Linked DNA regions of Homo sapiens: region 2 is linked to region 1. The links come from fine-mapping of genetic effects on gene expression. A gene starts in region 1. The other region holds a variant in brackets. All regions are shown on one strand. Distances are from middle to middle. Region 1 holds the start of SAP30L (SAP30 like). Region 2 has its middle 8.4 kb from the start of HAND1.

Region 1 (2,903 bases):
AATAGTTTTCTTTTTTCTTTAAACATAGATGTACAGACATCGTATCCTCCATGCAATTTCATATCCTGAATTTTTTTACTTATCATAAAAAAAGCATTTCTCCAACTCCTCATCAGCTCTTTATTTAAGAATTAATGGTGAATTATTCTCTATAGAAAATGTTTACATTGATGTTGAAACTACCTCAAATGCTAACTGCACAATCTCTTTCTGAAGATTTTAGGTAGTTTACTTAACCACTTCCCTTTTGGAACTCTGAGGTTCTATTTTATTTTTCCTATTATAAATAATTCCATAATGAACATCACTGTACTTCATATTATCTCTGATAGGCCTATTTCCGACGATGGCTGTCCCACGTGTGAAATTACCAGTTCAGATGCTACAAATGCATTTATGGCCACTGAGCAAAACTTAAGATCACCAGCCACCTGCTTCTAAACATGGAAACTGGTAGCTTTCCCTTTTACAACAGGACACAAACCCGAAGCTCCTTCTATGCCCTCTAGTACTAACACTTGCTTACCTATCACCTAACACAGCCTCCCCTCTTCCCTGCCCATAAAACGCTGCCCAGCCCTACATAATTACACGACCCTGGGCTGGTCCCATCGCCTTTCGGACCTCATCAGTCCCCATGCTGCGCAGTTGGAGAGTGGCATGACTGAAGTGCTGGACCAGAGCATATCCTACGGCCCCTCCTGGAGGGGAGGTGGTGCCCTGGGCGCCGAAACCAAGCGCAGGGTCTTGGCAGGGCGCAGTCGCTTCGCCGGTAGACCCGGGGACTCAAAGCAATAGAACTACAGCTTGGAGCTCCAGGGAGAGCCCAAGACACCGCAGCCCTTCCCCATCTAGATTCCGAGATTGGCCCCTGGGCCCCACTCCCAGCCTTCACTTCATCTCCCCTGAAGCCCTTTCTCTTGCCCGCGGCTCACCTAGTCCACCCTCCAGACCTCATTCGGACTTCCCATTCTTCCCAGTGGAGGGGTCGCCCAAACCCCTCGGGGTCTCCTTTCCCCCTCTCCTTTTCTTTCCGCGCCGTCCAAGCCAGTCCCACTCTCCACACTCTGGAAGGTATCGGCTACCCCCAATATTGCGACTGCCTTGCAAGATCCCCCCATCACCTCCTCCGCATGTCTTTCCACGTATCTGTATGGGGTTGTCCCTCTGTCTTTCCCGCCATGACTGGCTTTCCGTCCTATTTCACCCACCCTTCCTCCCACGGATCCGCGAGTCCTCTGGCCCTGGCCCTTTCATTTTATTAGTCCGCCCCTCTCCTGATAGCACCTCTATCCTCTTTAGGTCCCCTCATATGCCCCTCCTCCAAGTCTGTCCCTCAGCGTCCCCGTCCGCGTCTCTACTGTCTGTCCCCGAATGTGTTCCTCTGTTCCTGGAGTCTGGCCCTCGGTCCAGCCAGGCCCCTGCTCACCATCCCTCCCCCGGGCCGGAGAGTCTGCAGCCCGGTTCCCGGTTCTCGCTGGGGTAACTCTTTCCTCTTCCACTTTCTCTACTTTGAACCCATCCCAGCAGAGTCCAGGAAGTAGCCTGGCGCCGGAGACTGGCGGCGGCGACGCCCAATGGGACGCGCCAGCGGCGGCGGCAGCCCCGCCCAGAGAGCAAATGAGACCAATGGTCGCGTGAAGGCGGGACTTCCGCTGTCCCGCGAAGGGCGGGGGGAGCGAACTGTTGTGGTGCGGAGCGTTCGGCGGGCGGCGGCCGGGCGGCCCAGGGGCTGCCGCGGGACTCGGGGCGCAGCCGAGTGGCTGCAGGGGTGGAGTGGGCCGGACGAGCCGCGGGGCCCGGGTGCCGCGGGTTCGAGGCCGGGCCCCGCGCGAGGAGGCCGCGCCACCCCGGGGGAGCTGCCCGGCAGCGAGTTTGCCCCGCTGCCGAAAGAAGGCGGGAGCCGGCAGGGGCCTTCGAAACCCCCTGGCAACCCAGGCCCGGAGTCCTTGGGGAGCGGCTGTTTCCTGGGACGCCCTCCCGGACACCCCCGCTGCAGGGTTACGGTTCTGGGCCCCCGGCAGAAGGCTCCTCCGGGTGACCCCCGGCGGGGCCCTGCGAGCCGCGGGAGCCGACCCCGGGGCCTCGAGCCGGGAGGAAGGGGGCTTCCGGAGGCGGAGGGCCGGGGGCCGAGGGAGCCGGGCCTCTCGGACGCGGGGCAGGGCAGCGCCCGGGCTGGAGACGGACTCTGGGACCCTCGGCTGCGGGGGTCTCAGCGACCTGCCCCGCGGCAAGCGCGGCCGCGGAGTGGCCTACCGGGGACCCTCCCCCAGAGGGACCGGCCCGGGGCGGGGAGATGAACGGCTTCAGCACGGAGGAGGACAGCCGCGAAGGGCCCCCCGCCGCCCCAGCTGCCGCCGCCCCGGGCTACGGCCAGAGCTGCTGCCTCATCGAGGACGGCGAGCGCTGCGTCCGGCCCGCGGGCAACGCCTCCTTCAGCAAGAGGGTCCAGAAGAGCATCTCGCAGAAGAAACTCAAGCTGGACATCGACAAGAGCGTGAGTCCGCCCCCGCTCGCGTCTGGGCCCCGGCGCCCCCAGCTCTCCGTCCGCTGCCCTGGGCTCCAGTCGGGACTCCCCGGGCACTCCCCGCCGTGGGCCTCGCCGCCCCGGCTCTGCAGAACTGAGTTGGACTCCGCATTTCAAAGGCCGCTCCAGCGCTGACATGCTCTGACTGTGATTCTACCCAGATCCGGGAGGATGGGGGCGGGGGCTTCAGGACTCCTGCTGCCTGGAAAGATTGGACAGCAGTTTCCAACTTGTTTTATTGGTTTAGACTTTAGAGCAGGGAGAGGTGGGTTAGTTTTGTTGGCCCTTGAAGGAGCAAGAATCGGAGCGGGGAGTGATGAAGATACCCGGCTCTTTTCCAACTTCTCTCTCCTTCTAGGAACCCTGTTATTCCTTC
Region 2 (2,903 bases), 24 kb after region 1:
TCTCTCTTTTTTTGAGAATTTTTTTTGAGACAGAGTCTTGCTCTGTCACCCAGGCTGGAGTGCAGTGACGCGATTTCAGCTTACTGCAACCTCCACCTCCCAGGTTCAAGCAATTCTCCTGCCTCAGCTTCTCGAGTAGCTGGGATTACAGGTGCACGCCCCCATGCCCGGCTAATTTTTGTATTTTTTTAGTAGAGACGGGGTTTCCCCATGTTAACCAGGCTGTTCTCCAACTCCTGACCTTGTGATCTGCCTGCCTCGGTCTCCCAAAGTGCTGAGATTACAGGTGTGAGCCACTGCGCCTGGCCTCTGCCTTCCCTTTTACAGAAGTGAGCTGTGGGTCTCAGAAAGGTTAAAAAACCTGCCCATTGCCATGCAGCTCATTTCACCAACTCACCTAGTTTTGAGTACAGGCCTGGGGGGCCAGTCTAGACCTCCCTGTTGACCTTGGCCAGGCCTCTTGTGCTAATATGTTTTCTGTTTCAAAACACTTTTTTTTTTTTTGAGACAAAGTCTCACTCTGTTGCCCAGGCTGGAGTGCAGTGGCGCTATCTCAACTCACTACAACCTCCACCTCCCAGGTTCAAGCAATTCTCCTGCCTCAGCCTCCCAAGTAGCTGAGATTACAGGCATGTGCCAACACGCCCTGCTAATTTTTGTATTTTTCGTAGAGATGGGGTTTCACCATGCTGGTCAGGCTTGTCTCGAACTCCTAACCTCAGGTGATCCACCCACCTTGGCTTCCCAAAGTCTTGAGATTACAGGCGTGAGCCACCGCACCCAGCCTTCAAAACACTTTCAAAGATCTTTTCCCACTTCAGCGTGACAGGAGTTCTGTTGCGGGGAGGAAAGATATTGTTAGCCCATCTTAGAGATTAGAAAACTGGGGCACAAGGAGATGACTGGACCAAGGTCACCTGACTCATAGTAGACTTGGAACTGGAACTAGGTGGGACACTCCAAAAGGCACTCCACATCTTACTGCCCAGCTATAGTCCCCCTACTGTCTCTGGGAGTCACGGAACTGAGTGGCTGAAAGGGCAGGTTTTCGAGTCAAATGCATCTGGGTCTGCAGCCCAGCCCTGCCACTTAATAGTTATGTGCCTGGACCAGGCACGGTGGCTCTCGCCTGTAATCCCAGCACTTTGGGAGGCTAAGGTGGGAGGATCATTTGAGCTCGAGACCAGCCAGCTGACAAGCTGAAACCGCATCTCTACTAAAAATACAAAAAGTTAGCCAGGTATATTGGTCAGCACCTGTAATCCCAGCTACTC[G/A]GGAGGCTGAGGCAGGAGTATCGCTTGAACCTGAGAGACGGAGGTTTCAGTGAGCCGAGACGGCACCACTGCACTATAGCCTGGGCAAAAAGAATGAAACTCCAACTTAAAAAAAAAAAAAAAAAGCCCCTGGTTTTGAAGGCTTAGTATGAAAAAAAAAGAATGTAAAATATCTTACTAATAATTTTTAGATGGATTCATGTTGAAATTCTATTTTGGATATATTAAGTTAAACAAAATACATTATTAAAATAATTTCACCTGTTTCTCTTCTCATTTTTATTGTGGCTACTAGAAAATGTTTAATCACCTATGTGACTCGCACTTATAGCTTGCATGATAGTTGTACTGTACAGTGCTGCCTGAAACAGTTTCAGAAATTCAACGGCTACAGGCTGCCTTCCCCCTGTGTTACCTTAATGATGTGGACTATAAGGGCTTTGAAGCAGGAATTTGCTCACTGGGTGTGTGTCCTTGAGAAAGTCACTGAAATCTTCTGCATCTGTTGGAAGTATGCCCTGAGTCTCCAAAGCCAGCAAACAAACCAAAAGAAACCCTCAATGCTTCACAAGACTGTTATGAGGATTAAATAAAATAATAAAAATAGCTCTACCATGGGCAACGCGCTAAGTGCTTTGCATGCCTTATCTCTTTCCATCCTCACAGACCCAAGGATGTTGGGGGAATGATTGCTCTCATTTTGTAGATAAGAAAACTGAGGTTGAGAAATGTTCAGTAACTTGTGAAGAAAACTGAGATTGGGAAATGTTCAGTAACTTGTGCAGGGACTCCTGGCCCTTGTATTGTTCTGTTCCCTGCACTAAAAGTAGAAGGTATTAAATAAACAAAGGGAAGAGAAGGGCACAACTTCCCTGAGATGCTGGGCAAGTCCCTCTCCTTTGTGAGCCTCAGTTTCTCCTTCTGTAAATGAGGGACATGCTTGGATGGTGGGTAAAGACCTTTGAGGTCTCAGTGTTATGGGGTGTGTTCACATTTCAGTGAACATAAGCCTTTCAGGACTCCTCTAAAGTCCGATGCTTTCCATTGTCTATTTTGTGGGGATAAATGTGCATTTCTGTTTGTTTTAATAACATTTGTAGGAGCTTTATATAGTGTCTACGTCTGCTTACATTAGATGCTGTGTATTATAGTTAAGAGTCTTTCACGATTTCCCATATAAACCTAGTTTTTTATGAGTTTGGGAGAGCTCAGCTGTAAAAACTCTCTCAGCTGAAAAAATTTTGTTTCTAACAAATCAGGTTTAAATCAGGAGGCTGGTTTCAGACACTTCAGAACGTGCATATTTTTTCTCTTCAGTCACTCTTCATTTAAAAATGAGATTGGCTGATTTCTTAGTTTCGTTTCTTTTGTGAAGATTTAGCAAGACTATAAGGTTAACCAATGGTTGCATAGACAGAAGGTATCCAGTGCCTTTTCCGTAAGAACCCTGGGTTTGAGGCGCACCTTCTAATCCGGGCTCAGCCTTTGACTGGCTGTGTGACCCTGAACTGGTCACATCAACTCTCTTGGGTTTGCCTTTCCCACATCTGTCCATGGGGAGCATCATTCCTGCCTTGGCTGTCTTCCAGATTATGGGGAGGAAAATGCACTTATAAAAGTGGAAGTACC

The links.
Region 2: its variant is fine-mapped to the expression of SAP30L in whole blood (TOPMed, PIP above 0.99).

What each region holds. Positions count from the first base shown.
Region 1 is chr5:154,444,309-154,447,211 of GRCh38, forward strand. SAP30L (SAP30 like) reads left to right here and starts at 1,689. Exons shown (of 4, transcript NM_024632.6): 1 at 1,689-2,497. The coding sequence starts at 2,297. SAP30L-AS1 (SAP30L and GALNT10 antisense RNA 1) reads right to left here and starts at 1,514. Exons shown (of 3, transcript NR_037897.1): 1 at 1,430-1,514. RefSeq lists enhancers at 1,313-1,432, 1,486-1,986 and silencers at 1,563-2,092, 2,223-2,332.
Region 2 is chr5:154,468,415-154,471,317 of GRCh38, forward strand. No RefSeq gene overlaps it. Among named protein-coding and RNA genes, the nearest start is that of HAND1, 8.4 kb to the right of the region's middle. The variant G/A (reference allele first, on the strand shown) is at 1,275.